Linked DNA regions of Homo sapiens: all the other regions are linked to region 4. The links come from fine-mapping of genetic effects on gene expression. A gene starts in region 4. Each other region holds a variant in brackets. All regions are shown on one strand. Distances are from middle to middle. Region 1 has its middle 63 kb from the start of LDOC1. Region 2 has its middle 51 kb from the start of LDOC1. Region 3 has its middle 120 kb from the start of SPANXC. Region 4 holds the start of MAGEC3 (MAGE family member C3). Region 5 has its middle 40 kb from the start of SPANXA2-OT1. Region 6 has its middle 110 kb from the start of SPANXA2-OT1.

The links. PIP is the estimated chance that this variant, and not a neighbour inherited with it, causes the effect. A credible set is the group of variants that fine-mapping cannot tell apart.
Region 1: its variant is the best candidate, but not a certain one, in a credible set for the expression of MAGEC3 in cerebellar hemisphere (GTEx, PIP 0.79).
Region 2: its variant is the best candidate, but not a certain one, in a credible set for the expression of MAGEC3 in aorta (GTEx, PIP 0.88).
Region 3: its variant is the best candidate, but not a certain one, in a credible set for the expression of MAGEC3 in coronary artery (GTEx, PIP 0.78).
Region 5: its variant is the best candidate, but not a certain one, in a credible set for the expression of MAGEC3 in caudate (GTEx, PIP 0.81).
Region 6: its variant is the best candidate, but not a certain one, in a credible set for the expression of MAGEC3 in hippocampus (GTEx, PIP 0.87).

The regions. Positions count from the first base shown.
Region 1 is chrX:141,111,152-141,116,577 of GRCh38, forward strand. No RefSeq gene overlaps it. Among named protein-coding and RNA genes, the nearest start is that of LDOC1, 63 kb to the right of the region's middle. The variant C/T (reference allele first, on the strand shown) is at 2,381.
Region 2 is chrX:141,123,209-141,128,634 of GRCh38, forward strand. No RefSeq gene overlaps it. Among named protein-coding and RNA genes, the nearest start is that of LDOC1, 51 kb to the right of the region's middle. The variant T/A (reference allele first, on the strand shown) is at 2,870.
Region 3 is chrX:141,359,191-141,364,616 of GRCh38, forward strand. No RefSeq gene overlaps it. Among named protein-coding and RNA genes, the nearest start is that of SPANXC, 120 kb to the left of the region's middle. The variant G/A (reference allele first, on the strand shown) is at 2,303.
Region 4 is chrX:141,835,531-141,840,956 of GRCh38, forward strand. MAGEC3 (MAGE family member C3) reads left to right here and starts at 2,786. Exons shown (of 8, transcript NM_138702.1): 1 at 2,786-2,908. The coding sequence starts at 2,786.
Region 5 is chrX:141,460,006-141,465,431 of GRCh38, forward strand. No RefSeq gene overlaps it. Among named protein-coding and RNA genes, the nearest start is that of SPANXA2-OT1, 40 kb to the right of the region's middle. The variant G/A (reference allele first, on the strand shown) is at 2,575.
Region 6 is chrX:141,392,126-141,397,551 of GRCh38, forward strand. No RefSeq gene overlaps it. Among named protein-coding and RNA genes, the nearest start is that of SPANXA2-OT1, 110 kb to the right of the region's middle. The variant T/C (reference allele first, on the strand shown) is at 2,482.

The sequences.
Region 1 (5,426 bases), 720 kb before region 4:
GGAAGTCGGGGTAATATGATGATCAGGTATCTTAATACACCTTATCTATTGTGAGGGCAGTCTAAAGCAAGGGTAGACTTGTAATTGGTAAAAGAAAAAAACCCAGCAACTTATATTATTCAGAATAGTGAGATAACTGGTCATTCTTGTGACTTGCACAATGTCCATGTTCTGTCTGTGTTCAGACATGATTGCAGAGCGGTCTTGTTTTCGCCTTCATCCGTCATGGTCACACAGCGGCCTCATTTAATGCTGATGTTCCTGATAGAGTAATACCAAGGCCTAGCTGTGAGTGCCAAGCCAGCTCCTAGCAACAACTGGGCATAGCTTGTGAATGTCAGAAGCTGTTTTTCTCTTTCTCAAAACCAGTTAAACATTTAGTTCAGTGATTTGTCCTGCAGCTGGTGGATGAGATGGAATTTTCAAAAGCGGAAAAAAATAGAACAAGGTATGTTCTTTCTCAAAAGACATGTTTTCCAGCACTATTTCTATACGGCAAATTATTTCTTATACAAAGTTAAAATATAAAGAAGAGATTAGGAGAAAATACTTGTGATATGTATAACAAACAAATGACTATACAAATTTTTTCTATAAATAAAAAATCAAACAACCCAATAGAAAAATATGGCAACAATTCACAGATTAATAACTACAAATAGATAACAAAAGATATTCAACTTTACTATTCGTAAAGTAAATATAAATTAAAACAAAGAAGCAATTTTCTTCCATTGGATTGACAACAAAAATCATGAGGGAATAGGAAATCCTAATACTGTTAGAACAAAGTACAAGTACTTTGCAGGATATTTTGGCAATTTCTAGCAAACTTTAAAATGCTCATTAAATTTTTAAGAATTTTCCTTTTAGAAATGCTACACATGTGCACGAAAACATATGATTCAAAAATGTTCATTGTAACATTTGTTAAACAGAAAAACTGGTGAAAAACATTTGTACATCAATAGAGAAATACCTACATTTAAAAATGATGTATCCATACTATGAAGTTATATGCAGACAATTAAAATATTGACATAGATATGTATGGCAAATATAGAGGAAAAACAAAGATACAGAATTAGACAAGAAAATTAATTTACAAAAGTACTTAATATCTCATTTATGTCAAAATATTTATGTAGGCCAAACGCAGCAGCTCATGCCTGCAATCCCAACGTTTTGGGAGGCTGAGGCAGGAGGATTGCCTGAGTCCAGGAATTCGAGACCAGCCAGGGCAACACAGTGAGAACTCTTCTCTACAAAAAAAAAAAAAAAAAAAAAAAAAAAAAGAGCCAGGTGTGGTGACTCATGCCTGTAGTCCCAGCTACTCAGGAGGCTGAGGTGGGAGAATTGCTTGAGCCTGGGAGGTTGAGGCTGCAGAGAGCTGAGAATATGCCACTGCACTGCAGCCTGGGCGACAGAGCAAGACCCTGTTTAAAAAATATATAATTATGTATTTTTAATATTTGCATATATGTATATGACTATATTATGAATCTTTGTATATATATTTAAATGAATATAAAATTATCTGTAAGTGAGCATACCAATTGCAAGCTGTTTCCTTTGAGGACCAGTAATTCAGTTGAATTTTGGGAGAATAGAGGGTGGAGAGAATGGTAGAAATGCAAGTTTTTCTGTATATACATCTGCACTGCTTGAAATTTTTATAAGAAAATATTATTTTCATAATAAAAAGTTATATAATAATATATTCTTTTTTTTTTTTTTCGAGACGGAGTTTCACTCTTGTTGCCCAGGCTGGAGTGCAATGGCGTGATCTCAGCTCACCACAACCTCTGCCTCCCGAGTTCAAGTGATTCTCCTCCCTCAGCCTCCTGAGTAGCTGGGATTACGGGCATGTGTCACCACGCCCAGCTAATTTTGTATTTTTAGTAGAGACGGGGTTTCTCCATGTTGATCAGGCTGGTCTCGAACTCCTGACCTCAGGCGATCCACCTGCCTTGGCCTCCCAAAGTGCTGGGATTACAGGCATGAGCCACCATGCCCGGCCAATAATGTATTCTCTTAGGAACTGTCTAGCTGAGATGGGGTAACTTGTAATGGAGTTATCTTCCTGGCAGAAACAACTAAAAACACTGGACTATATACATATATATATATATAAATGTTTTTTAAGCGTTAGAAATTAGGTAGTGTGAGAAAATAATTCCTTACAGAGGGAAAACAAAGTGAACCCTTACGATTGTCCTGGCTTACTGTCTGAAAGGAGACTTCAGGCTACATCATAGAAAGGGAGAACTCAGGCCGGCCGCGGTGGCTCACACCTGTAATCCCATAGCATTTTGGGAGGCCAAGGTGGGGGGATCACAAGGTCAGGAGAGCGAGACAATCCTGGCTAACACGGTGAAAC[C/T]CCGTCTCCCCTAAAAATCCAAAAATTAGCCAGGTGTGGGGGCACACGCCTGTAGTCCCAGCTACTCAGGAGGCTGAGGCAGGAGAATTGCTTGAACCCTGGAGACGGAGGTTGCAGTGAGCTGAGATCTGGCCACTGCACTCCAGCCTGGGCGACAGAGCAAGACTCCATCTCAAAATAAACAAATAAGTAAATAAATAAAATAAAAAGAAACGGAGAACCTAAATGGAATCCAGTGGCCTCCCTAAGTTGAGAAGACAGAGCTAGGAGTCCAAAAAGGGAAATACAGCTACAATTTTCAGGGAAGAATACAAGAGAAAAGAAAGCTGCACAAAAAATAAGATAACTGCAGCGATTTGTTGAAGGTCCTTCTCAGCTTTAGTTGAGCATGAATCAGTGCATGAATGTGAGGAAACTAACTGAAGCTGGAGAAGCAACTATCTGTAAACAGCAGAAAAAAACAATTCTTAGAGCTCAAACATTTCTTTTTCCCACAAGTCAGAGTGAAAAGCCTTGTATTTCACATGATATTAGGTAGGTTCGTCAGAGGGTATCGCCACAGTAGTGGAAGAAAAATAGTCCTAGATTAATAGCTAGTCTGGTTCTGTCTAATGAAGTTTACAAACAAGCCTTGAAAGAATCAATGTTTTTTTTTTCCAAGTAAATTTAAAGCATCTCAGATTTAAGTGTGAAAATAATATTAGGAGAAGAAAAACACCACCAAAAAGGTAAAATCCACATTGTCTGACATCAAATAAAAAGTTACCAATCACGCATGAAGGAAAGAAAATAAGAGCAGAAAAGCCATTCAATAGAAAGAGACCAGAAAATGGCACCTATAGAATGAGTAGACAAGAACATTAAAACGGCTACAGACGGCTGGGTGCAGTGGCTCATGCCTGTAATCCCAGCACTTTGGGAGGCTGAGGCGGGCAGATCACGAGGTCAGGAGATCGAGACCATCCGGGCTAACACGGTGAAACCCCGTCCCTACTAAAAACACAAAACATTAGCCGGGCGTGGTGGCAGGCGCCTGTAGTCCCAGCTACTCGAGAGGCTGAGGCAGGAGAATCGCTTGAACCCAGGAGGGGGTTTCAGTGAGCCAAGGTAGTGCCACTGCACTCCAGCCTCGGCAACAAAGCAAGACTCCATCTCAAAAAAAAAAAAAAAAAAAGCTACAGGTATTCTAACTATATTATATATGTTCAATAAATAAGAGGAAAGGTTGAACATGTTAAGTAAACATATGAAAGATATAAAACATACCAAAATCAAACTTCTATGGATATAAATTACAGGTCTGAAATGAAAAATAAACTGAATGGGATATATAGCAGATTAGACACTGAGAAGAAAATACCAACACTACAGGTTGAATTTTGTTCCCCCAAATTAATATGTTGAAGTTTCAACCCCCAGTGCTGTAGAATGTCACATTATTTTAATACAAGGTTCTTGTAGAAGTAATGAGCTAAGATGAAGTAATTAGGGCAAGACTTAATCCAATACTACTGGCCTTTTAATAAAAAGGGGAAATTTGGACATAGACCCAGTGAGAATGTCACATAAAAACAAAGGCAGAGATTGGAATGATGCTTCTGAAAGCCAAGAAATGCCAGTGTCCGCCAGAAAATCACTGATTTAGCTAGGCAAGAGACATGGTAGATTCTGAGAGGCCTCCGAAGAAACCGACCCTGTCAACACCTTGATAATAAACTTACAGCCTCCAGAGCTGTGAGCAAATACATGATGTATAAGCCACTCAGTTTGTGGTATTTTATTATGGCCACCTTAGCAAATTAAAGCTACCTGTAACATTGAAAACATTAGAAGAGTAATTTCCACATTAAATGCAAAGAGGAAACATTATTTCAAAACAAAGCTAGAATACCTGTATAATATGATCCGGTAGCTTTCAGAGGCAAGAATATCACATGCAAAATGAGGGACACTGTAAACTGATAAAGGGAGAATTGACCAAGGAAATATAAGAATTTAAATATTTAATATTTAGGTATCCAAAATAACACTGCTTCAAAGTCAACATTGAATAAAATAGCAAAACTTAAAGGAGAAATGGGCAAATTCACAATTATAGTCAAATATGCCAACATTCTTCTTTTAATAAATGATAAAAGATGCAGACAAAAAATCAGTAAAATATACAGACTTGAAAAACAATATCAAACAACTTGACTTAACTGACTTTGGTAGAACACATGACACAACAACAGTAGAATACACAGTGTTTTCAAGCACACACAGAACATTTACCAAGATAAACCAGATAGAGGATCATTAAACAAGTCGAATAAATGTAAAATGATTGAAGCCATACAAAGTACATTCTCTGACCACAATGAAATTGAACTAGGAATTAATATCAGAAAAAAATGTCTAAGAAGTTCCCAAGTAATTTAATACTAAATAGCATAGTTCTGGAGAGGATATGGATCAAGGAAAGAATAAGATACAATTAGAAAATATTTTGAACTAAATGAGAATGAAAAGACAAACTACCAAAATTTGTGGGACCCAGATTTAAAAATATTTGGAGGTAAATTCATAGCACTAAAATTTCTACATCATAAAAGATTGGTCTCGGCCGGGTGTATTGGCTCACACCTGTAATCCCATCACTTTGGGAGGCCAAGGCCAGTGGATCACTTGAGGTCAGCATTTCGAGACCAGCCTAGCCAACATGGTGAAACCCCATCCCTACTAAAAATACAAAAATTAGCCAGGCATGGTGGTGCACGCCTGTAATCCCAGCTACTCGGGAGGCTGGGGCAAGAGAATCGCTTGAATCTAGGAGGCAGAGGTTGCAGTGAATGGAGATCGTGCCACTGCACTCCAGCCTGGGCAACAGAGTGAGACAAAAAAGACTGGTCTCATAACAATGGCCTTAGCTTCTATATTTAGAAAATAAGACAAAAGAGCAAATTAAATCCAAAATAAACAGAATAAAGAAAATAATAAAACTGAAGCAAAAATGAATGAAATAGAAAACAAAAATATACTAAGGAAAATCAATGTAATGAAAAGG
Region 2 (5,426 bases), 710 kb before region 4:
GGATCATGAGGTCAGGAGATCGAGACCATCCTGGCTAACAAGGTGAAACCCCGTCTCTACTAAAAATACAAAAAATTAGCCGGGCGCGGTGGCGGGCGCCTGTAGTCCCAGCTACTCGGGAGGCTGAGGCAGGAGAATGGCGTGAACCCGGGAAGCGGAGCTTGCAGTGAGCTGAGATTGCGCCACTGCAGTCCGCAGTCCGGCCTGGGCGACAGAGCGAGACTCCGTCTCAAAAAAAAAAAAAAAAAAAAAAAAAAAAAGAAGAGATGGTGAGTGGGAAAGTGATGTAATTAGATATGTTCCATGCATATCATAATTATTGTATGTAATTATTGGTATTAGTGCCTTAATTTACTCTTTGATAGGCCTAGGTTCTACCCTTTCCCCATCAGTTTTCTTCTGAGTTCCCAATCTACTAGGTAGTTGAACAGGTAAAATCTGTTTATTTAACTTCATATTAATCTATTCCTATGTAATGTGTATATGTATCATGTGTGTATATATTATATAATCTATATGTATACATTTCTACTAAGCTTATGTTCAATGTTAGCAGTAGTTTCTTTTTCTCCAGTCCTTAATAAAGTAATTAATATTCTGATGAAAACAGAGTTAAGATACTTATGTTAGGCTGGGCGTGGTGGCTCACGCCTGTAATCCCAGCACTTTGGGAGGCTGAGGTGAGCAGATCACGAGGTCAGGAGTTTGAGACCAACCTGGCCAACATAGTGAAACCCCATCTCTACTAAAAAATACAAAAAAATTAGCTGGATGTAGTGGCAGGCACCTGTAATCCCAGCTACTCGTGAGGCTGAGGCAGAAGAATCGCTTCAACCCAGGAGGCGGAGGTTGCAGTGATCTGACATTGTGCCATTGCACTCCAGCCCAGCAGACAGTGCGAGACTCCTCAAAAAAAAAAAAACAAAAAAAAACATACTTAGATTAACATGTTAAGTATTGTTAAGTTTTATGATTTCATTATCTCCTTAAAAAGTTTTTTTTCCAGAAATCATGGGGACAAATAAATACAAATTATTTCACTTCTGCCATGATGTATATTGCTGGCATTGATTGTATTCTATTTCTTTTTTTTTTTTTTTTAAGATAGGGTCTCACTGTCACCCAGGCTGGAGTGCAGTGGCATGATCTGGGCTCACTGCCACCGCCACCTTCCAGGCTCAAGCCATCCTCCCACCTCAGACTCCTGAGTAGCTGGAACTGCATACAGATGCGCACCAAAATGCCCAGCAAATTTTTGTATTTTTGATAGAGATGGGCTGTTGCCCAGGCTGGCCTTGAACCCCTGAGCTCATGCAATCTGCCTGCTTTGGCCTCTAAAAGTGCTGGGATTACAGGCATGAGCTACTGCGCCCGGCCAGTTATATTCTTTTGCAAACATATTATTGAGGACAATTAAAAAAAAACAAAAACAAAGCAAAAATCCATATATATATTTTAAAGTTCTCTAATTTTTTATTTTAAAGTTATTATATTTTAAATGATAAATGTACCCATAGACTTAGTGCAAAGAAAAACATTATATTTTCCCCTCAGTATAACATATTGAAAATATAAATAAACAATAAAGCACAAGGCGAAAACAAGCAGGAAAATAGCATTTAAAAATGCATATAAATAAATGTTATCTTCACTGATATCTTCGTTTATACCCATAAGCTACTACAAAATTATTTTTAAATCTACGTTGCCTTTAAAAAAGGAAACAATTCAGCCTGTCTTTTAAAAATCTCCACAAATATATTTGCAAATAAGTTTGAAGATATTTCCCAGATGTTTTTCATGTGATGTTTTTTCTTTCAGACACAGAAAGCAAATGAGCATTTTCACAGAAACTTGTTTTTTAATAAATTGGTGGCTGATTGTGCAGGTGTGTGAATGAATTTTGAGAGGCTCCCAGCATTCCTGGGGGCTCATCCTTCAGAGGATAGATTATGGGGTAGAAGCACAGGGTTGGGGGCCTCTGACTCCCATTTAAATGCCAAAAATGTGAAAGTACCTCTCTGATTTGCCTAGAGCCATCCATATAAGAATTTAGGCTATAAAAAAAATCTAAAGACCAGGTGTGGTGGCTCACGCTTGTAATCCCAACACTTAGGGAGACTGAGGCGGGTGGATCACGAGGTCAGGAGTTTGAGATCTGTCTGGCCAACATGGTGAAACCCCGTCTCTACTAAAGATACAAAAAATCAGTTGGGTGTGGTGGCATGTGCCTGTAATCCCAGTTTCTCAAGAGGCTGAGGCAGGAGAATTGCTTGAACCCTGGAGGTGGAGGTTGCAGTGAGCCGAGATCGTGCCATTGCACTCCAGCCTGGATGATAAGGGGAGACTCCACCTCAAAAAAAAAAAAAAAATCTAAAATGAGCCAAATGTTATTGCTATTTTTATATGACCCAGCACTAAGTAATGCTCAGAATGTTTTGTCCTCTAAGTTTTAATAGGCAATGTTTCTTCTAGACAAATATCCAGAAATATTTTTTAAATAAAGCTTGGGGAGAGGTTTACAAAGCACCCATACAAAGCCATTTTAATATTTTGGAAGAGAACAAGCTATATAACATTTATATTGAATTCAAGGTAATTTTTAAGTAATGAAGTGTCTTACCTCATTTTATTCCAGTCCCCTCGTTTTACAGATTTTACAGCATAGAGAAGAGAAAAAACTTCTGGCAATTCATACTGCCAGATAATGAGAAAACTAGTAGTGGAAACCAGGTCTCCTGCCCATGAACTCACCAAGCCCCATCCCTTGATCTTTTCACTATACCACTCAGTTTACTTTCGGATTCAAAGTAGAAAAATATAGTGGAAATGTGTATAAGATAGTTTCTTGATTTTTTTAACTAATTAT[T/A]CCATTTAAGCCTAGGAAGAGAAGAAGGAGCATTTTATTTTATAGTTAATAAACTAAAACATACATTTTTCTTAACTAGAAAGGCAGAAACTAAGTTGACAAGTCCTGTGCACAGTATCATTTTCAAGCATATCTCTGATGAAAAAAAAAATTGAAAGCAACACAAACAACTGTTACATGAAGCGTATAACAAATTGGTAAATGCTTTTGATCCTTTGAGCAGGAAGGGACAATTGAGTAGATAACCACCATACAACTGTGGGAAAATGCTCACTGCTCTTTATTCTGGGAAGCTACTTTCTGCATGCAAACACAAAAGGAAAGTAAAATAAATTAAGCAACTCATCCACTTATAGCTAAGCTGAAAACATGTAGTATATAGTTTATAGATGACAGTGTGAAGTGTGAAGTCAAGCACTACCAGAAGAGAGCCAGCTAACTATATCAGGGGAGAGAAATGGGATGAGCAAGATGTCTTGAAAAGCACTGTGGGCTACAAACTATAATAGATTCAGTGAGGTCAAGTGCAGTTTTCCAGGACTTGGACTTGGCTTCAGAACTCAAATGTACAAGATGGGAAGTGGTGGCTTACCAGTAATACATTCAAATAAGACTTGGGGGTTTGAGTTGACAGTTAATATAAATCAATTAGAGTTAAAAATCATATAATCTTAGGGACATATACACTGAAATATGATAACCGTAATAGGAGAAATTCTAGTTCCACTCCACTCAGTGCAGTCACAGGTAAATTACCTAATTTCCATGTGCCTCAATTTCCTTATTGTCCAAATGGGGATTCAAATGCCTCATTCCTAGTCATGTTGTAAGGATTAAATTAATTAATACAAGTAAAGTGCTTGGCACACTACTTGATACTCAATAAAGGCTAGCTTCCATTATTATTATTATTATTATTCAGCTTACTCTAAGACACTGAACTCAGTGATGCATTTTTTAAAAAGGGATAAACTAGTAAGTATTCAACAGAATGTGATCACAAAGTGACCGAAAACCCCCTCAGAATCTCATCATATAAGGATAACTTATGGGAACCAGCATGCTTAACATGAAGAAAAGATGACTTCGATTATTATGGAAACTGTCACTACATATCAGAAAGGCTGTTTTGTGGACGAGGAGGCAGATTTGTTCTCTGAGGCTCAAGGCAGAGGGTAGAAACTACAAGGAAACAAGATCTGGTTTAATACAAGCAAGACTGTTATGATCAACAGAATTATCCACAGATGGAGTGGGCTGTCTCAGGAGGCTGACAGTTGAAGCATTAGTTGAATGTTTGGCTAAGATTTTGAAGACAGGGTTTACACATCAGATGGTTGGGTAGGACTAAATGACAGCTAAAATTCTGTTCTTTCCAGACATGAGTTCCTATAATTCTATAACCATTCTCCAAGGACACTTTGGTGGTCAAGCCAGTCTAGTAACATTGACCCTAAAATTTGTCTGGGGGAAGAAGCTTGCCATTATCACACAACTATTAGCAGTTTACAGTGTAACACTGTGACAATGGCTAACCAGATTAACCACAGAGCCAAATACTTAAGACTGCAGAATATGGCAATCCACAGGGGGAAGAAAAAGATCACAAATGTAGGCAAAGCTGCCCAACCTCCTCCAAGGATCAGAGAAATGCACATTGTATTTTGGCTGGGTGCAGTGGCTCACGCCTGTAATACCAGCACTTTGGGAGACTGAGGTGGGCAGATCACCTGAGGTCAGGAGTTCGAGACCAGCCTGACCAACATGGAGAAACCTCGTCACTACTAAAAATACAAAATTAGCCGGGTGTGGTGGTGCATGCCTGTAATCCCAACTACTCGGGGGTCTGAGGCAGGAGAATCACTTGAACCTGGGAGGCGGAGGTTGCGGTGAGTCAAGATGGCGCCATTGCACTCCAGCCTGGGCAACAAGAGCGAGACTCCATCTCAAAAATAAATAAATAAATAAAATAAAATAAAATAATATTTTAATTGCTAATGTTTTCAAAGTTAGATGATATTAAAGGCTGAAGAAGAGGTTGTGCGTGGTGGCTCACTCCTGTACTCCCAGCATTTTGGGAGGCCGAGGTGGGTGGATCACCTGAGGTCAGGAGTTCAAGACCAGCCTGGCCAACATATTGAAATCCCATCTCTACTAAAAACACAAAAATTAGCCGAGCGTGGTGTTGGATGCCTGTAATCCCAGCTACTCGGAAGGCTGAGGCAGGAGAATCACTTGAACCCGGGAGGTGGAGGTTGCAGTGAGCCAAGATCGTGCCATTGCACTCCAGCCTGGGTGACAGAGCAAGACTCCCGTCTCCAAAAAAAAAAAAAAAAAACAGACTGAAGAAGATATGAACAAAGAGAAACCGTCATGAATTGAATGTGGAAATGTAAACTGGTATTCCTTGCTTTCTGTCTTGGAAGACTCACACAAAGCAATTATGGACAGGGCTTCCCATATTAGCCTTGTTTGTTATAATGAACAACCTCAAACTATCCAGATATCTATCAATAAGTAAACAAAATGTAGTAGACTAATACCACAGACTGGCTCA
Region 3 (5,426 bases), 480 kb before region 4:
CCTGCCTCAGCCTCCCGAATAGCTGGGATTACAGGCATGCGCCACCACGCCTGGCTAATTTTGTATTGTTAGTAGAGACAGTGTTTCTCCATGTTGGTCAGGCTGGTCTTGAACTCCCAATCTCTGGTGATCTGCCCGCCTCGGCCTCCCAAAGTTCTGGGATTACAGGCATGAGCCCACCGTGCCCGGCCTGAAAGGTGAATCTTTTAGGAGTGGAAAGGAGAAAGGTGAGTTGGCAAAGTGGTTGAGACTTGTGCCCAAATCCCATGAAGCATCCTAGAGGTATTGGTGTATTGAAATGAGTATACCTGTGTGGATGACACCAAAGACCATGTTAAATGCTAAGGGTCCTTCAGATCATTCTGACTTAGAGGAACTATAGCACCAGTAGCACCACATAGCTTTAAGAGCATTTAAGTTTAGGCATTTAAATTTAGGCAACATCCTCAGCAGTGACTATGGAATGATTACCAGAAAGGCCTCTAATCTACTGCCCTGCGCTATTCAATCCTGGTGCAACCAAATGAGGAGAAAGACATGAATAAAAATAGAGATTCAATAAACTATTCACCATATTTGACAAGTGGAGGTCTTGGAGCCACATTTGATTTGATTTCAAAAAACGAAACACAACAATTCTGTACATTAGGTGTTGTGGGAAAAATTTACATTTGATCCTGAGCATTTATTCATAATTAATTTCAGATAAAGCATATTATTTGCTGTCTGGTGTATATACTTTAAGACCTCACATTGTATACTGGCAGCTTCAAAATCTTCACCAAATTTATATAAAACCCCACTGTTAAACTTGCCTCTTGAAGTGTTGATCTGGTTTATGTAGTCACCTATGACAGTATAAATATTGCCATTGTCGTCCTATTCGGTTTGATAACTTTCTTTGAAAATTACACTAAATGTGACCTTGATCTTCAAGTCTTAAAATTAATTTCAATTGAATGTAATCTAACTTGAAAATTTGAGAAATGTTTGTATCTTGCTCAGAATCTTTCAGGCAAGGGATGAGGGTAGGGAACAGAAATTTACTTCTTTAGTGGATAGTATCTGTACCCATATTTAGGAACCACTGATACAAATTATCTGAAGAAACAACAGTTTTCTCTTTTAAGGGAGCATAATGCCTTCATGCAATTTGATATATATTATTGAATAATTCTATTCTACTTCTTAATTGTGCAGAAATACAGAGGTGACAGAGGATATACTTCTTTTACAATCTATTATTGAATACACTACATCCCCAGATTCTAAGATAAAAATCAGTGGGCAATTCCATACAAGAGAAATGACAGGGAATAGAAGAGCTTTCAAAAAACACGGAAACAGAAAGGACAGGTTGCCCCTGACAACAGTTCTCTCCCACAATCCCTCCCTCATTTGTAATGGCAATAGTGACCACAAGGAGACACTTCCTTCAGAAAAATTCCTTCACATTTGTAAAAACAGGTGTCTCTGGTAGGCACCTGGGTAGCTGATTGCAGGATTAACAATGAATAAAACAGCTCTGCATATAATCGAACTACCCTAGGTTCGGACATAGAAATAAATTAGACAAGGATTAAAATTATATTTTAGTTATCTTTGGGTGATTTAAATTTCTTTTATTTATTCATCTGTACTTTTCCTGTGTAAGCATATTTATTTTTATAATCAGAAAAAAATAAGAATAAAAGAAATATAAAAATCGTTCAAAATGTCAGTATTAGACTTCACCTTCCAGCCCTGGTGAAATGACTGATTTCAGATTTGCCACCTAGCCATAAACAACTAGAAAACTGAAAGAAAAAGATGAAATATCAAACAGCTGTTTCAGATATTAGATAATAGACAATAGAGGACTTTGACCCAGGGCATAAGATAAATAAACGTGGTGAGGTATACAATTGCCTCAACATTCTGTTCGGAGGTTGTATTAGTCCATTTTCATGCTGCTGATAAAGACATACTGGAGACTGGGAAATTTACAAAAGAAAGAGATTTAATGGACTTACAGTTCCACATGGCTAAGGAGGCCTCACAATCATGGCAGAAGGCAAGGAGGAGCAAGTCACATCTTATGTGGATGGCGGCAGGCAAAAAGAGAGCTTGTGCAGGGAAACTCCTGTTTTTAAAACCATCAGATCTTGTGAGACTCATTTACTATCACAAGAACAGCGGAGGAAAGACCCAGCCCCATAATTTAATAATCTCTCACTTGGTTCCTCCCATGACAGATGGGAATTCTGGGAGTTACAATTCAAGATGAGATTTGGGTGGGGACACAGCCAAACCGTATCATTCT[G/A]CCCTTGGCCACTCCCAAATCTCATGTCCTAACATTTCAAAACCAATCATGCCTTCTCAACAGTCCCCCAAAGTCTTAACTCGTTTCAGCATTAACTCAAAAGTCCACAGTCTAAAGTCTCATCTGAAACAAGGCAAGTTATTTCTGCCTGTGAGCCTGTAAAATCAAAAGCAAGTTAGTTACTTCCTAGATACAATGGGGGTACAGGCATTGGGTAAATACAGCCATTCCAAATGGGAGAAATTGGCCAAAACAAAGGGGCTAGAGGCCACATGCAAGTCTGAAATCCAGGAGGGCCGTCAAATTTTAAAGCTTCAAAATCATTTCCTTTGACTCCATATCTCACATTCAGGATGCGCTGATGCAAAAAGTGGGCTTCCACAGCCTTTGGCAGATCTGCCCCTGTGGCTTTGCAGGGTATATCCCCCCTCCTGGCTTCTTTCACGGGCTGGTGCTGAGTCTCTGTGGCTTTTCCAGGCACATGGTGCAAGCTGTCAGTGGACCTACCATTCTGGGGTCTGGAGGACGGTGACCCTCTTCTCACAGCTCCACTAGGCAGTGCCTGAGTAGGGATTCTGTGTGAGGGCTCCAACTCTACATTTGTCTTCTGCACTACCCTAGCAGAGGTTCTCTATGAGGACCCCGCCCCTGCAGCAAACTTCTCCCTGGGCATCCCGATGTTTCCATATATCCTCTGAAATCTTGGCGGAAGTTTCCAAACCTCAATTATTGACTTCTGTGCACCTGCAGGCTCAACACCACATGGAAGCTGTCAAGGTTTGGGACTTCCACTCTCTGAAGAAACATCCTGAGCTGTACCTTGGCCCCTTTTAGTCACGGCTGGAGCAGCTGGGACACAGGCCACCAAATCCCTAGACTGCACAAGGGAGAGGGACCCTGGGCCAGGCCCACAAAATGACTTCTTCCTCCTATACCTCTGGGTCTGTGATGGGAGAAGTTGTGGCAAAGGTCCTGACATGCCCTGGAGACATTTTCCCCATTGTTTTGGGGATTACCATTTGCCTCCTTGTTACTTATGCAAATTTCTGTAGCCTGCTTGAATTTCTTCTTAGGAAATGGGATTTTCTTTTCTATTGCATTGTCAGGCTGCAAATTTTCCAAAGTTTTATGCTCTGTTTCCCTTTTAAAACTGAATGCCTTTAACAGCACCCAAGTCACCTCTTGAATGCTTTGCTGCTTAGAAATTTCATCTGCCGGATACCCTGAATTGTCTCTCTCAAGTTCAAAGTTCCACAAATCACTAGGGCAGGGGCAAAATGCCACTAGTCTTTTTGCTAAAGCATAACAAGAGTCACCTTTGCTCCAGTTCCCAACAAGTTCCTCATCTCCATCTGAGATCACCTCAGCCTGGATTTCATTGTCCATATCATTATCAACATTTTGGTTAAAGCCATTCAACAAGTCTCCAGGGAGTTGCAAACTTTCCCACATTTTCCTGTCTTCTGAGCCCTACAAACTGTTCCAGCCTCTGCCTGTTACCTGGCTCCAAAGTCACTTCCATGTTTTCAGGTATCTTTTCAGCAATGTCCCACTCTTTTGGTACCAATTTACTGTATTCGTCCATTTTCATACTGCTGATAAATACATACCTGAGACTGGGCAATTTACAAGAGATTTATTTAATGGACATACAGTTCCACATGGCTGGGGAGGCCTCACAATCATGGTGGAAGGCAAGGAGGAGCAACTCACTCACATCTTATGTGGATGGTGGCAAGCACAAAGAGAGCTTGTGCAGGGAAACTCCTGTTTTTAAAACCATCAGATTTTGTGAGACTCATTCACTATCATGAGAACAGCGCAGGAAAGACCCATCCCCATAATTTAATCATCTCCCGCCAAGTTCCTCCCACGACATATGGGAATTCTGGGAGTTACAATTCAAGATGAGAATTGGGTGGGGACACAGCCAAATCATATCACAGGTACTTTCAGACTGTGGCACAGAATGGAAGACAAGAAGCAAAACATAACAATCTTTATCAGTTGGAAATACAGATGTTAAAGTTTGAAGAAGCAGATGCATATGGAATTTGTGGGAAATGGTTCTGGAGACAAGATTGTTGAGCTACAGAGAGAATGAATTTGAGAAATCTTCACAGAAGTTTTGCTGAGAATGTTGCTGAATACTAAAATGTGCATGTGTAAGCTGAAACGTCATGATGCTGGGTAAAGCACTTATGGAGAGCTGTAAACTGAACTATTCCTACAGCATACAACAGGGCTGGAAGTCATTCAAATTCTAACCAGTCAAAGTGGAGATACTTTGTTGAAAAACTGGAGCATTCAGGCAACTTCTGGACAATCACATTTTAGTAGAGGTGAAACTAGACTTAAAGTAAAGGATACTTTAGATCCATCCTAACAAAATTGATGTGAAAGTTATTTAACTGTCTGACAAAACTAAGTTCAACATTTCTTAAAGATACACAGTGGGATTCTGATATTTAACAATATAAAATGTTCAGTATTCAATCAAATATTCTTCACCATGCAAAGCAGTAAAAGAAGAAATACATAGCCAGGAGAGAAATCAGCCAATGGAAATGTTCAGAAATGACAAAAATTACTGTATTAAAAAACAATTTTAAATAATTATTATATATATGTTCAAATATTTGAAGGAAGTCATGCACACTATGAAGAGGTAAATGGGAGGTTTAAGTTGGAAACAAAAAGAAGTTGTAGAGATGAAGAATACAGTATCTGAAACAAAATATTTAGAAGATGGGTTTAAAAGCAGTTTAGTTACTGCAGAATAAAAGACGAAGGTGCAACAATAGATGACTCTCCAAACTGCACTTGAGAAAGAAAAAGAACTTAAAAAATCAGAATCTTAGAAATCTGCAGGACAATATAAAGCAGGTTTAACATGTGTGTAATCATATTAAATGCACTTAGAGAAGACAGAAAATATATTTGAAGTTGATTTATTTTTCTTAATTTCATGAAAACTATAAAACCATAGACCCACAAAGTTTAACAAACATAAAAGACTATAAACAATAACAGCAACAACAAAACACATCAAGATACATTGTAACAAAATAGTTGAAAACCAATGATAGAGAAAAATTATAAAGCAGCCAAAGGGGGGAAAATA
Region 4 (5,426 bases):
TGTTTCAAGTTTCAGCATTGATGAATCCTTTCTGTTCATTTTGGTTAGTCACAGGGTGAGAGGTTTTATAAGCCAACACTATTTCCGCTTGCTTTCCCATAGCTTATTCAGTATATTGAAAAATTTTCAGGAAACAACAGCAAAATCCTACATAATATTCCTTGTTGAATATCAAATTTCTGTTTTTGACTTTCCATTGGAATAAGTCAGGAATGTCTACGTAAGACAATGCTTGAGGGTAAAAGATGAGTGAATGCGGAGATCTTTGTGAGATTGAGATGGCTGGCATCAGCTCTGAAGCCATGCGATCATTAATAGTAAGTTTCTGCTCTGCCATTTACAGATGCTGTAATCTGAATCGATCTTTCAATTTGTTCAAAATTCAGTTTTCTTTTAACTTTGTAAAATAAAAATAACTCTTGTTACTACATGTTGGGACATTTTTAACAGATTAAATGTGATAATATAAATCTGAAGTATTGAGCACTGTACCTGGCATAGAATGAGCTCATTATAATATCAGTCTCCTTATTCTTTCCCTTGTCTAACCATCAGTGGTGAGAAACAGCTGTTGATTTGCCAAAATATATGCATAATTTTATAAATGAAAACATCCAAAATCTCTTTGGGTGGCCTATTAAGGAATGAGCTACAGGGTTTTTCACCTTTATTACTATTGACATTTTGAGACAGATAGTTCTGTGGGCTTTTTTGAGGGGGTGTCATCTTGCTGAATTTAGAATGATTAGCAGCATTCCTAGTTTCTATTCAATAGATGCCGATAGCACCAAGAGCCATCCCAGTTGTGACAACCAAAAATATTTCCAGACTGCAAAATGTCTTCTTGGGATGGGGTGCAAAATCACCCCCAATCTGAGCACTACTGAGCTAGAGGAATGAAAAGGACATTGTGTTGGAAGAGGGTAGGGACTTAAGCTTTGAAATGTTGTTCATAGCTTGGAAGAGGCCCACCTTAGCCGTTTCTGCCATTGGGTGAACTAGGCTTTTTGTGCCTAGGTGTTAGTGAATGGATGTCAGAGCAGAAGGTAGGAGACAGGAGAAGAGTCTTCTCTATTTAGAGGGAATGGAAAAGATGCAGGGCAGTGTCAGAAGGTTTCAGATCTCTCATGAGCAAATGCAAAACTTCTGTGTTCTCAAGACCGGAAACACATTTCTCAGCCAAGGGAAGAGGCTAATTGAGAGGAGTGATCGTGGCTCTTCTTCATTTTCTTAGTAAGCTCCTGAAGGTGGCAAGACCGCAGAAAAGCAATGCATTTAATACCTCAGGGACTTGTTAGTGCCTGAAATTGAACATGGAGGCATTGGGATGATTTCATTGTGCCTCAGAAGTTATTAAACTGAGTCAGGCAAGTCTGCACTCTGGCTCCCCATGTGCAGGTGCAAGCAGTGGCCCCAGTGGGGATCCGAGGGCAGTTCCCTGGCTGGTGGGGTAATGTTCCAGGCAGGAACACAGCTGCCTCTGCTGCACAAAAAATCTGCCTGAAAAGTGGGAGGCAGCAGGTTGTAATAAGCCCCACTCAGCTCCCACACACTTGGCAAGTCAGTTTTCATACCCACAGTGTTCTGCTAGCAGCAGCAGCTAACTGGGTTTCAAGTGGCCCGTGCTCAGAATTTAAAACCATCCCAGGCCATAAGCTTTCCCTATGGACACAGAAACCATATCTTTCAGGCTGCATCCTTTCCAGTCCACCTGTGAAGCAGGGCCATGCAGCTCATGTGCCTTGTTGCCGTAGCACACTTCTCACTTGCCCCTCGGTTCTGGCCAATCAGCTTTGTCCTTACTAAGGATTATATCACAAATCCCAGTTGGGCTCTTCTCTCAAACTGTGACTGCAGCCTGAGTTAGACTTCTGCAACGTCCCGTGAGGTGGGATCAGGAATGGCTTCCCTCCATTCTTGCTGGAATCTGGGTCTGCACACAAAGCATGTCCCGATGCTGCTCCTTCTTATATATTCCTTACTTTTCACTGAATCACCTCTAGAGCTGAGTAGGTTTGAAGTCCTCCCTCATGACTTGTATTGCCTGGCTCGCCTGTGGGAGTATATGTCATGACAGCAATCTATCCCTCTCTCATGCTCTGGGGACTAATGGTTTTCCATCTGTTTTATGATGTAGTCTGTTGCCTGCCACTTCATTCAAAGGGTCTGTGGTTTCTTTCAGTTTTTCTGTTAAGTTCTTACATTGTTTCTTCGAATAAATTTTACAGCATGAATCTCTACATGCCATTTTGTCTTACCAAGTGGGATAAGTATGCTTATAATGCTTCCAATCTGCCATCTTGGAAAAAAAGAAAAAAAAAACTTTAAATATTTTGTCTGTAATGTGCTATGGAAGAGACCTTTTCACATTGTATCTGTTTAGGAATTGATGGGCCTCCTGTATCTCAATGTCTAAGTGTCTTGCTCGACTTAGGAAGTGTCATCTATTATTTCAATAAATAGGTCTTTGAAAACATGTTTTCTCTCTTTGCCTTCTGGGCTATCAGTGATTTTTATATTTGGTCACTTTATGTTGTTAGATAGATTCCAAAGGTTTATTTTATTATTTTCTTTTTTTCTTTATTTTTGTCTGACAGCGTTATTTCAAAAAAAACTGTCTTCAAGCAAAATGTGATCTTAACATAAGTCAGTTATGATTGAGTATATTGTTGAAGCTTTCATGTGTATTTTTTAGTTTATTCACTGCATTCTTTGGCTCCAGAATTTCTGTTCGTTCCTTTTTTATGGTCTCTATCTCTTTGGTAAAGACAGGGTGGCAGTGGCCATGCTGCTGCCCTGCCACTGGGTGTTGGATGCCACCTTCAGTGATGGCAGTCTAGGCCAGTGGGTGAAAAACACATGTGCCACATATGCCTTATCCCCAGTGGTGCTCCCACCTCAGCCCCAGGTGTGGTAGCCCATGAATGCTCATGTCTAAGCCCCAGGTTAACAGCCAGCTCTTCTTTTGCATCTCAGCCTCAGTGTTGCTTGGCTCCAAGACAGTGTGCAGTCTGTTGGGGGTGAGGCTCTAAGATGCTATCTTGCCCAGCCTTGATGTTCATGTCTTTCCCTTGGTTGCAGTAGCCTGTGGTCGCTCATGTCTGAATCTCCAGGGAAACATCAGACATTTAGTTTGCACCTAGGCCTCAATGCCACTGGGCTCCAGGACAGTATGTAGTTCATCGGGGGTGAGGCTCTGCAGTGGTGCCTCATTTGTGCCTCAGTCCTAAAAGCAGCAGCCCACGCCTTCGTCCCACCTCTGCACCAGATGCTGTAGTCTGTAGTCACTGATGCCTATGTCCCTGGGGCAGCAGTTCGTGCTTCTCTTGCACCTCAGCCCTGGGCTACTGGGCTCCAGGACAGTGCTCAGTCTGTTGAGGGCAGGGCTCTAAAATGGTACTTTGTTGTAGCTGCTTAAGTCTCAAGAAGTGTGAGGGACCCAGCGGGAGCTTTCTCCCTGAAGCAGTGCCATCATACAATCTCCTGGCAGCTTTCTATGTTAGTTTCGGGGCCCATGATGGTTGAAGGGATCTCCTGTGGCTGGGATTATAGGAGTCTATAGTGAGAATGTAAACTACTGAGGCTCTCTCACCTATCCTTTCTCTGTATTTGGAGTCTCTCAGCTCACAGCTGATCCTGGATGAGCAGGCTGCCTTGATTCCCTCTCCATCTCTGCTTTAAGTATTGCCTATCACTTTTCTAATGGATTCCAGTGATTTCCTTTGAATTATATATTCAAAGTGTGATTATCGACTCACCGTTTGGTTATTTTTAATGGAGAAAGTGAGTACAAAATGCCTCTAGTCTGCCATATTCATGGTTTCCAAGAAATAATTTTTAAAGGTTTTTAAATATTTTATGTAATTATAATGATTATGGGCATAAGAAGGATTATGGAGAAGAACGGAGCAAAATAAAAGCTTCATTCACTCTGCTGTCATATTTGATTATATCTTGAGGTCAAATTGATCTTTGCTATTGTCTTGGCTGCCGGCTCTGGCTACAGCTAATCCTGGGCAGGCTTTGCAGCTCCTACCACTTCCAGGCCCACAGCTGCAATCCCAAGCTTGCTCACCAAAACAAGTGTTTATTCATTATATCTTCAGTAGATTTTATTTTATAAATATGAATTGTTTATATGCATTTCTAATATGTCAAATGCTTTACTAGCTTTTTAATATCTTTATATCCATTTTCCCTGGATCATTACTTACTGTTCTTAACTCAGTGGTTCTTAACTGGAAGAGATTTTGCCACTTAGGGGATACTTGCCAATATCTAGAAATATTGTTGGTTGTCATAATTGGTGGCAGCAGGGAATGCTACTGGTATTTAATAAGCAGAGACAGAGATGCTTCTAAGCGTCTTATTGGACAAAGGACGACCTCACACAAGAAAGAATTATACTGCCTAAAATGTGATGGTGCTGACAGTGAGAAACCCTGAGTTTAACATAATTTGCTCAGAACTCTAAAAATGATTCACTTTCCAAAAATTTGCTGCATTTTTTCTTCTGGTCAGAATGTGCACAATGGAAATTCTTCCTGAAGGATTTGTGTGAGGAGACCTATTCTATAGCTGTTAAATGATTGGCAGGGAGGTTGATAGATGGAGGTGAAGTCAGCCAAAACTTAACTGATATTTAACAGCCAGGAAATACCCAACCTGGAAAGTATTCATTCATAGCATCACAAACCACTAAAGAAAAGTGATATTTTACCTCTGAGAAAGTTAACAGCAAAAGTATAGTCTTTCTAATTAGTTTTTAGCTTGCAATCTAAATAAATGACAAGTAGAGAATATCAGGTCATAAAATATCATTTAATTTTAAGAAATATTTTCATAAGAATATTGACATAAAAGTGATTTAAGAAAGTGAAAGTTACATTTAGCACAAGATTTTGCATTTTTCAAAAGTATATGATATTGGAAAAACATATAATTACATATTATTTTGAATTTGTTCTATGTAGCAAACTTTGTTCAGACCTCTTTAAGAACATTTCATAAATTTGGCATCATTACTAACATCTCCATGTTAAGAAGATTTTCACAGAAGCAATATTTTCTTGTGTCTCTAAATGGGAGAGAGTGCCTCTCCTCACTAAATTGCCATATTAAAGTGGACTGTTCAGCATTTATTTTCTTCAACCATTCTGTCTAAAATTCAGCCTGATGTATTAGCATTAGCATGAGTCCTCCTGCAAAATTGGTCAGTGGGTAGTTATGCTTTTGTGTGTTTTTCACATCAAAAAAAAAAACCCCACAAGAACAAAAACAAAACAAACACAAAAATGCTCAGTAAATAGTTAATGAATAAATTGTTCTATTCAAGGGGATTGAGAATGGACCTTGCTCCACTGCTTCTTTTTTTTTCTGTATTTTCAACATCTGCCTTTCTACTGGCTAATTAACTATAGTTTATA
Region 5 (5,426 bases), 380 kb before region 4:
GGCAGAGGCGGGCGGAACATAAGGTGAGGAGTTCAAGACCAGGGTGGTCAACATAGTGAAAACTCGTCTCTACTAAAAATACAAAAATTAGCTGGGCATGGTGGCGCACACCTATAGTCCCAGCTACTTGGGAGGCTGAGGCAGGAGAATCGCTTGAACCTGGGAGGGAGAGGTTGTGGTGAGCCGAGATTGCGCCATTGCGCTCTAGCCTGGGCAACAGAACGAGACTCCATCTCAAAAAAAAAAAAAAAAAAGAAAGAAAGAAAAGAAAAGAAGAGATAAAGGCTTTGGAGGCATTTACACATAATTAAAACCAAGGGAAAAGCTTAGAAAATTTGTAGAAAATGTAATGAATAAGATGAAGACCCCAGGAAACAACATTTTAAAAATCAAACATGGGAAAGAATTCAGTGAAAGAAATTGAGGAACAACATACAATGATGTAAGAAGAGCACAGGAAAAGTGTAAAATCATGTAAAGCACAATAAGGGCATTTCAGGAAAGAATGATCTACAGTGATATTTTGGAGAACACTATCAGCAAATTGAGGGGAGCAGAAGCCAGATTTAAATATATTGAGGAATAAATGAAATTTAGGAAAATGCCAGAACTAGAATCTTGACTGAGGAAAGAAAGAGAGGTGTAGGGGAGTTGCTAAAGGCAAGGTGTTGGGTCAAATAAACTTTTTGGTTTGTTTTTTATTATATTTTGTTTAAGTGGAGGGGGCGGGAACTACAGTATTTCAAAAGATGAGGACAACAGAGAAGTGTAAGTTGAGTATATGGGAGGCAGTGAAGATAATTGATAATTTCCAGAGCAGCAAGAAGGGAATACAATTCAAAAGACAGGTTGAATGGCATATCCGGGACTGAAAGAAAAGAGAAAATCGTTGGTAAATGTGGATACAGAAAGCTTTATGTAAGAAGTCAGGAAATTGAAGAATTCTGTTCCTGGTAAAATAGAATAGTAAGCCTGAGAACAATAAAGGAAACTACTTAGAAACTTAGTGGTAGTAGTTTCTAAGAGGGATTGACTTGTCAACCTCAATTCTTCACCCTCCCCTGCAACTACACTTTGGCCACGCCATTGATGAGCAGAAAATGTACATTGTCTCCCTTAACTTGGGGCTTGGCCTTGTGAATTGCATTGGTCAATAGAATAGGGCATAAATAACAGTATGCCAGTTCTGATTCAATAACTTAAGAGGATTCACATGTTTCTGCTTGCCCTCCTATGCCTCTGCAATGACCATGAGAAGAATATCCCTGCAATAGCTGTTCACTTTTCAATCTGAGCCCAAGAAAAACAGATCTGGAGATAAATATCCCCAGCTGCTGTACCACTGAAGCAGAGACATCAGCCAATTAACAGATTGATGAAAATAATAGACAACTATAAGCCATAGAATTTGGAGGATTGTTACACATAATTATTGTGGCAATATTTAACTCACACAAGAGAACTGACCAAAGATAAGAAGAAGATGCCTCTTATGTATCCCACATGAGATTAGGAAGAAGGAAGTTAGAAAAGAGAATTATAAGGAGGGGATTGAAGCTCGGAGAGCCCAAGAAACTTGCCCAAAGTTGTGGACAAGGAAATTATGAAACAATGACTGGAATTCAGGACTGTCTGATTCCAACTCCATGTTCTTTTTGCTGTATCAATCTGTATGGTCTCAGAGGAGTCAACCTGACATTCCTGAAGAGTTCTGAATGGAGATGAGCTCTGAGAAGTACAGAAGTCTCCAGGCACCAGGGACCAGAACTCATATTCTATGGCTGATCGTGTATGAAGAAGTGCAATTTATATCACCCACTGGCTTTCTAGGGGAACTCTATATTTCTCTTTGGGGCACACATTTTTTTTAAATGTAGGTAGTATGGGAACATCAGAGTTTGGAAATCAGACAGGTTTGGATTTGAATCCCAGATACGCAATTTACTTACTATGCATATTTCAGCAATTGACTTAAACCTGGATGCACTTCAGTTTTATCATCTATGAAATGGACAAAATTTACCTTGCTGGTTTGTTCAGGGGATGGCTAAGCTTAGGCATCTTTCCCATAGTAGGTGCTCAGTAAGTGTTAGCTCCTCCCTACTTCTTATCACAAGGGCACTGCTGTCTACAAAATGAACCTTCATGCACAAAAATTAGAGAACAACAACAACGACAATAACAATAACAAAAGCTTCCTCCAGGTGTGAATTTTGTTTCCCTTAAAAGTAACAAGATACTGTCTTTATTATAAACAAATATATATTGCACCCCTCTTTTTTTCATCTTTCTTACTTCAAATTTATGTTTACCCTCTGTATTAGTTAGTTCTTGCGCTAGTATAACAACATACCTGAGACTGGGTAGTGTATAATGAAAAGGGGTTTCAGGCACAGTTCTACAAGCGGTACACGAGGCATAGCTGGCGAGGCCTCAGGAAACTTACAATCATGGCAGAAGGTGAAGAGGAAGGAGGCGTGTCTTCACATGGCCGCCAGGAAAATAAGAGACAGGGGGAGGTGCTACACACTTTTACAACAACCAGATCCTGTGAGAACTCACTCACTATCACAA[G/A]GACAGCAAAAAGGAAGTTGGCTCCCATGATTAAATCACCTTCTACCTGGCCCCTCCTCCAACTCTGTGAATTACAGTTTGTCATGGGATTTGGGTGGCAACACAGAGCCAAACCATATCACCTTTCTAATTTCCTCATGAATTACTGTGGCACCTCAACTACTACTCTGCAATATTTCTGCCAAGACTGGACAAAGGGCAACATGAGTGAGGTACTAGGGAAGAATCCCATTTCCTCTGCATCCTAAATCTTGCCATAATGTTAGCCTAAAGGTTGAATTCCAACAGCAGGGAAAGAAGGTGGAAAAGAATAATTTTTATTGATCTCTTCCCGCCGCAATTTTCTTCCTTCAGTTCGGCAGCAGTCATGTCAAGGGTAGCGGTGGAAAAATAAATGGCTTCTCTCTGTGATCTGTGTTTTATAACATCTCTGTACTCCTCTTTCTTCCTCCCTTTTTACTAGATTTACAGAAGAAAAGCAAAGGTGACAGATTAGTATAGTGATTTGTGTGTCAAACATAAAAAATAATAATGGTTCCGTGTAGACTATAATAATAATAGTAATAGTAACAATAATGGCCGGCATTTTTCAGGCTTTTAGAATGTGTCAGGTATTATTCTAAGGCCCTTACACCCATTAACTCATTGAATCTTCACACAAATTCTGTTGAGTAGGCACTAGTATTATTCCTATTTTAAAGAAAAGAAAAAATATCTCTGACTATAACATTGGATTTATCTGTTTCTCCTTGTAACTTTATCAGTTGTTGAATCATGCATTCTGATGCTCTGTTTGTAGGTGCATACACATTAAGGATTGTCTCTTTGTCCATTCAGGCTGCTATAACAAAAGCATACATTGGATGGTTTATAAGCAGGCATTAATTTCATACTCCTGGAGACTGGGAAGTCCAAGATCAAGGTGCTGATAAATTCAGTGTCCGGAGAGGGCCTCTTCCTGGTTTGTTGGCCCCTGACTTTCAGCTGTGTCCTCAAGTGGTGGAAGGGGGAAGGAATCTCATTGGGTCTTCTTATAAGGCTGCTAATCCCATTGATGAAGCCTCAGTCCTCCTGACCTAATCACCCATCAAAGGCCACACTTCCTAATACCCTCTTTTTGGGGATTAGGATTACAACATTTAAATTGTGTGTTAGGGGGAGGGTGGGGTAGGGACACAAACGTTCAGACCATAGCAGATTGTTATGTCTTCTTGGATGACTGACTCCGTTATCATTATGTAATTATTCAATTTATCCATGATACCTTACCTTGCCTGGTGGTCTGCTCTGTCTGAAATTAATAGAGATAGTCCCACTTTCTTTTGATTAGTGGTAGCATGGCATATCTTTATTTTTAGTTTTATTTTTTTTATTATTATTATTTTTTGAGATAGAGTTTCACTCTTGTCGCCCAGGCTGGAGTGCAATGGCGCATTCTCAGCTCACTGCAACCTCCGCCTCCTGGGTTCAAGTGATTCTCCTGCCTCAGCCTCCCGAGTAGATGGGATTACAGGTGCCCGCCACCATGCACAGCTAATGTTTTTTGTATTTTTAGTAGAGACAGGGTTTCACCATGTTGGCCAGACTGGTCTCAAACTCCTGACCTCAGGTGATCTGCCCGCCTCGGCCTCCCAAAGTGCTGGGATTACAGGCATGAGCCACCGCACCTGGCTGGCATATCTTTCTATATCTGTTTACTTTTAACCTGCAAGTGTCTTTATATTTAATGTGAGTTTCTTGTAAAAAGCATATGGCTGGGTTTTGTTTTTTGATACACTATGACAATATCTGTCTTTTAATTGCGATATTTAGACCATTGATGTTTAAGTGATTATTGATACAGGTGGGTAACATTGAACACATTTGCAACTGTTTTCTATTTGTTGCCCATGTTCTGTTTCTATTTTTGTCTCCCACACTTTTTCTGCCTTTTGTAGTTATAACTAAATATTCATATGATTCCATTTTCTCTCCTTTATTAATATATCAGTCATATTCCTTCTTAATCTTTTCTTGGTGGTTTCCCTAAAGTTGCAATATATGTTTAAAACCAATCCAGGTCCACTTTCAAATAACACTATACCACTTCATGGGTAATGAAAGTAATTTAAAATAACAAAATAATCTGAATTCCTCCATCCTGTCCTTTGCAACATTGCTATCATTTATTTTACTTATATATAAGCATATAAATACAGAAGTATATATATTGAATACATTGTTGCTATTCTTTTTTAAACAAACCATTATATGTTACATCAATTACAAATAAGAAAAATAAAAGCTTTTAGTTTACTTATTCTTTCTCTAATTTCTTTATGTAGATCCAAGTGTCTAATCTATATTATTTTCCTTCTCTCTGAATAACTTTTAACATTTCTTTCAAAGCTAGTCTTCTGGCAATAAATTCTCTCAATTTTTGTTTATTCAAGAAAGTCTCTATTTCTCCTTCACTTGTGAAGGATAATTTTATAGGATTCAAAATTCTAGGTTGGTGAAGTTGTTTTTCTACCAAAACTTTAAATATTTCACTCCACCTTTTTCTTGCTTGCCTGGTTTCTGAGAAGTCAAGTGTAATTCTTGTCTTTGATCCTATATAGGTGTCTTTTGTTTCTGATGGCTTGTTTCAAGACTCTTTTCTTATCTTTGATTTTCTGCAGTTTGAAAATGGTATGCCTGGCTGGGCGTGGTGGCTCACGCCTATAATCCCAGCACTTTGGGAGGCCAAGGCGGGTGGATCACCTGAGGTCAAAAGTTTGAGACCAGCCTGGCCAACATGGTGAAACCTCATCTCCAGTAAAAATGCAAAAATTAGCTGGGCGTGGAGTGGGCACCTGTAATCCCAGCTACTC
Region 6 (5,426 bases), 440 kb before region 4:
TCTGATGGGTGGCACCTGCTAAAGCACTTTTTCAGGCTATGGTGGTGGTATCCATGCTCATTCACATGTGCCAGCAGCAGTGGCAGCACAGTGAGGTGCACATTTATTGAATGAGTTGGGGTGCTGGTGGGCACAGGGGTACCAGTCTCCTTGCAGATGTTTGCAGTGGTAGTGGTGGTGGCGGCGTGGTACAGGTTGTCCTATTACAGACACCAGCTTTCAGTTATTCAAGGAAATCAGCATGGGAGATGAGAATATTAATTTATTATCGTCAGTCATTAGATTTGTCAGACACAATTTTAGTATCAATGTTCTGCACTCTTGATCCCATGATTATTAAAAAGCCACTGAAATCCCAGCATTTTCCCTCTCTTTGCATCCACGTCCCTGTGCTCTATGCCTCTGTCAGTCAAAATTAAAGCATTACTAAGTCACATAAATGTGACAGTCTCTTTAACCTCTAGTCCTTTGTACACACTGTTTCTGTGAAGAAATTCTTTCTGCCCAAATTTGTTCAAATTAACAAATTGACTTATTTTTGATACTTAGTTCTGTGAATTTTAGCACATGTATAGATACATGTAAAAATTACCACAATCAGGAGAGAAAACAGTTCCATCGCTCCCAATACTTCTTGGCACCATCACTTTAGAGTTACACCTTCCCCACCCCTCTAACACCTAGAAAAACCACCGATGTAGTCTCTGTCACGTCGTCTTGCCTTTCCAAGAACCTTACAGAAATGGAATCAGACAATATCATATATTTTGAGATTGGCTTCTTCCACTTGGCATAATGGTTTGATATTAATGCCAACTAGCCAACTATTGTGGAATCAGTAGTTTAATTTCTTTTATTACCGAGTAGTATTTGATTGTATTAATATACCACAGTTTATTTATTGTTATCCATTGAAGGGCATTTGGATTGTTCCCACTTTGGTATATTGTGAATAAAACTGCTATGAACTTTCATATTCAAGAGTTTGTGTGAACATAAATGTGGCAGGCTGAATAACAGTCCCCGAAGGTATCTATGTTTTAATCCCCAGAACCACTAAATATGTTACCTTATATGGCAAAACATACTTTGCAGATGTGATTAAGTTCAAGACCTCGAGATGGGAAGATTATCCTGAATTATCCTGGTAGGCCCTAGGTCTAATCACAAGCATCCTTATAAGAGGGAAGCAGAGTAAAAATTGCCCCAGAAAGAAGAGGAGTAGGTAGTGTGACCATGGAGGCGGATAGTGGAGTGATGTTGCTAAAAACCAAGTAATGCCAGCAACCACCAAAAGCCGGAAGAATCGAAGAACAGATTCTCCAATGGAACTTCTGGTGGAAGTGAAGCTCTACCAACACTTTGATTTCAACCCAGTGAAATTGATTTTACATTCCTATTATCCTCTGCAGAACTGTGAGAGAATATATTTCTGTTGTTTTAAGCCACTGAGTTTGTGATAATTTGTTATAGCGGCCAAAAGAAACCAATTTAATAGGACTTCATTATTCCAGGTTAAATTGCACTCCTGGGAGTACAATTGCCAGGATGTACAGTAAGTACGTGTTCAACTTTAAAAGAAACTGCAAAACTCTTTTCCGAATAACTGTAAAATTTTGCATTTCCATCAACAATGTATGAGAGGTCCAGTTCCTCAGCTTACTTTTAAGTGCTTGATGTTATAGGTATTTTTTATTGTATCCATTTTAATTAGCGTGTAATGCTATTTAAATGTGGTTTTAATTTGCATTTCACTAATGGCAAACAATTTTAAACATTTCTTCATGTGTCTGTTTGCCATTCACATATCCCCTTTGGTGAAGTGTAAATTCTACTCTTTTGCCCATTTTCTAATTAGATTGCCTATTTTTTAACCGCTGAGTTTTGAGAGTTCTTTATGTACTCTAGATACCAGTCCTTTTTTGGGTATACAGTATGCCTGTCTTTACATTCTCTTAACAGGGTTTTTCACAGATTGAAGCTTTTTAAATTTTGATGAGGGACATATTAACACTTTTCTTTTATGGATCTTGTTTTCAATGTCATTTCTAAGCTTTTCATGAAACCCTCAGATACTAACAAAAATCTTACATTTTTCTTTTAAAGATTTTATCATTTGTCATTTTACATTTAGATCCATGATTCATCTATTTTAGGTTCATTTTTGAGTAAGATGTGAGATTTAAGTCAATGTTCGTTGTATGTCTATGATTGTCCAATTGTTGCAATATATTTGTTGAAAAGAGTATCCTATCTCCTTCAAATTGCCTTTGCAAGTTTGTCAGCTGTCAGTCAGTAGTACTTCGTAGGTGTATTGATGAACTCTGTTTTCTATTCCATTGACCTACATGCCTATCCCTCTACCAATTCCACAGTCTTAATACTGATAACGGTAGCTATATAGAAAGTTTTAAAATTAGGTAGTGTGGTTCCTCCAACATTATTTTCCATATTTAAAATTGTTTTAGTTTATCTAGTTTA[T/C]CTGCCTTTTCTTATACATTTTAAAATAAGCTTGTATTATATATATAAACGATTAATCCTGTTGTGTTTTTGTAGAAATTGCATTAATCATACAGATAAAGTTTGAAAAAGATTGACTGTTTTTATTATGTTGAGTCTTCCAATCCAAAGCCACATGATTTATTTCAATTTTCCTCGATATGTCCCAGCTGCATTTGGTGGTTTTCAGCATAAAGATCCTGTTTATGCCTTAGTAACAAAACCAGACAAAAATATTACAAGAAAGGTCAACTATAACATCTCCCATAAACATAGTTGCAGAAATCTTCAACAAAATACTACCAAATGAAACTCAACAATGTATAAAAAGAACTATATTACAACTGAGATTTATTTCAGCTATGCAAGGCTGGTTTAAGTTTCAAAAATCAATTAATGCAATCCGTCACATCAAGGGTGTGATACAAATTTGGACAGCTTTTCTGGAAAAATTCATGGACATTCCTCAAAAAAGTAAGAATAGAAGTACCATATAATCTCAAGGGTGGGGAGGATTACAAAGAACCTTCTTAAGGGTGGGGGAGATTATGAAGTACATTGATCAGTTAGGGTGGGGCAGAAACAAATCACGATGGTGGAATGTCATCAGTTAAGGCTATTTTCACTTCTGTGGATCTTCAGTTGTTCCAGGCCATCTGTATGTATATGTGCAGATCACGGGGGATATGATGGCTTAGCTTGGGCTCGGAGGCCTGACATTCCTGTCTTCTTATATTAATAAGAAAAATAAAGCAAAATAGTGGTGAAGTGTTGGGGCAGCGAAAATTTTGGGGGGTGGTATGGAGAGATAATGGGCGATGTTTCTCAGGGCTGCTTTGAGTGGGGTTAGGGGCAGCGTGGGAACCTACAGTGGAAGAAATTCAACTGAAGAAAGATTTTGGGGTAAGGGGTGATATTGTCGGGTTGTTAGAAGGAGCATTTGTCATATAGAATTATTGGTGATGGCCTGGATGTGGTTTTGTGTGAATTGAGAAACTAAACGAAAGACACAAGGTCCAAATAGAAGGAGAAAAATAGGTATTAAAGGACTAAGAATTGGGAGTACCCAGGACATCCAATTACAGAGTGTCCAAGGGGGTTCAGTGTAATTATTTGCTTGGTTGGCGAGTTTTTGGGCTGTATCCTTGAGTTTTTTTATGTTGTCATATACCAGGCCAGATTGATTTAGGTAAGAACAACACTCTTCATTTAAAAATATACAGAGTCCCCCACCAGCTTTTTTTTTTTTTAGCAGTGAGTAAGTCAGGGCCTCTGCGATTTTGGAGGAAGAAGAAATGCAAAGTCAGCAACTGCTTGTTAAAGCAGGATTAGAAACGGCTAGGAGAGAGTGAGATTGATAGTGTGGTGGAGATAGTTGGGGAGAGGTAGAGGGTGGCATAAGATGGTGAAGCATTTTAAAAAATCTTTTGCCTATGTTTTGATTGGATTGTTTATTTGCAATTGAGGTGTAAGAGGTTTTTGTACATTCTAGATACAAATACCTTATCAGATACATGTTTATACATATTTTCCTTTCTTTCTATTTCTTGTCTTTTTTAATTAAATTTTTTATTTTGAGATAATTGTAGATTTACATGCAATTGTAAGAAATAATGCAGGGAGGTCCCATATACTCCAGTTTTCAAAATGGTAATATCTTGACGAATCGTAATACAATATCACAACCGGGATATTCACATTGATATAGTCATGTAAGAAAACACTTTCATCACCACAAAAATCCTTCATATAGTCCTTTTATAGCCACACCCATTTTTGTCCTGCCCCATCCCTCCTTAAGCCTTGGCAAACAGTAACTTGTTAAGCTGTTGAATATTCCATATTTTCTTTCTCTAGTGGCACGTCCTAGTATTAAAAACAAAAAAGCAAACAAAAAAATTTTTGAATTAAAATTATTTCCAAGAAATCTGGAGCAAGAGAGTTCCCCTTTCAATATTACTATTGTGGCAAAAGTTTCTGAAGCCCCCATCCAAATTTATTTTAAAATATGTTTATGAACTTAGGGTTTTTTTGTTTTGATTTTTTGTTGTTTTTCACAAACCAGATGCCACCATATGGCTTCAATGTGTTCTACTTCGGTGTTAGAAACAAAGTGAAATGGCTGCCAGATTTCCCTGGAGTCCTCATATTATAAAGGAAATGACTTGTGAAGCCAGGAGACTCAGTATTATGATAAGCCCTCCAAAATGGTTTAGATCTGAAGTTCAGCATACCCAACAAAAACAAAAAAGAACATTAGATGGTGCCTGCACAACAAGGTAGCCATCCCACCCAAATGCCTCAAAGGGATGCAAGCTGATGGTGTTAAAAGCTATTTTTCTTCAGTGGTTTGATTCAGTCTGAGTTCAATTTTAGAATCTCTTTTTCCTGAGTTGCTACAGGTATACCCTTCCATTAGTCAAAAAAGTTTCATTTGTAAATCTGACACCATGTATTTATATGAGATTGAATGCTAAACTTGGTTGAATTACGTCACTATAATTATCAAGTATAAAGATTCAGGCAATTGCAGCCTTAAATTCATTTACCTTGGCCTATTACCTATGCTCTTTTTCTTATATGCTCTTAACATCATCTTTTAAGAAAACGAAAGTGGCTATATTTATCACTCAGGATATGCTAGGTTATGCTGTAGGAATAGACAATCTTAAAATCTCAGTGGCTTAATAAAGCAAAGGTTCATATCTCATTCATGGAATGTCTGCTGCTAAATATGATACTGAAAAAAAGGTAAGCAAGCATATACCAGATTTCAAGATAATGCAAAATTTGATGGTATAATAAGGTGCACAAGTCATATACATAGGGTAAAACGTTTGAAAATATAATTTAGGATAATGGCTCCGTTTAACATGGATGGTGAGTACCTAGGGATTTACTACCTTTTATTCTTTATATGTTACATA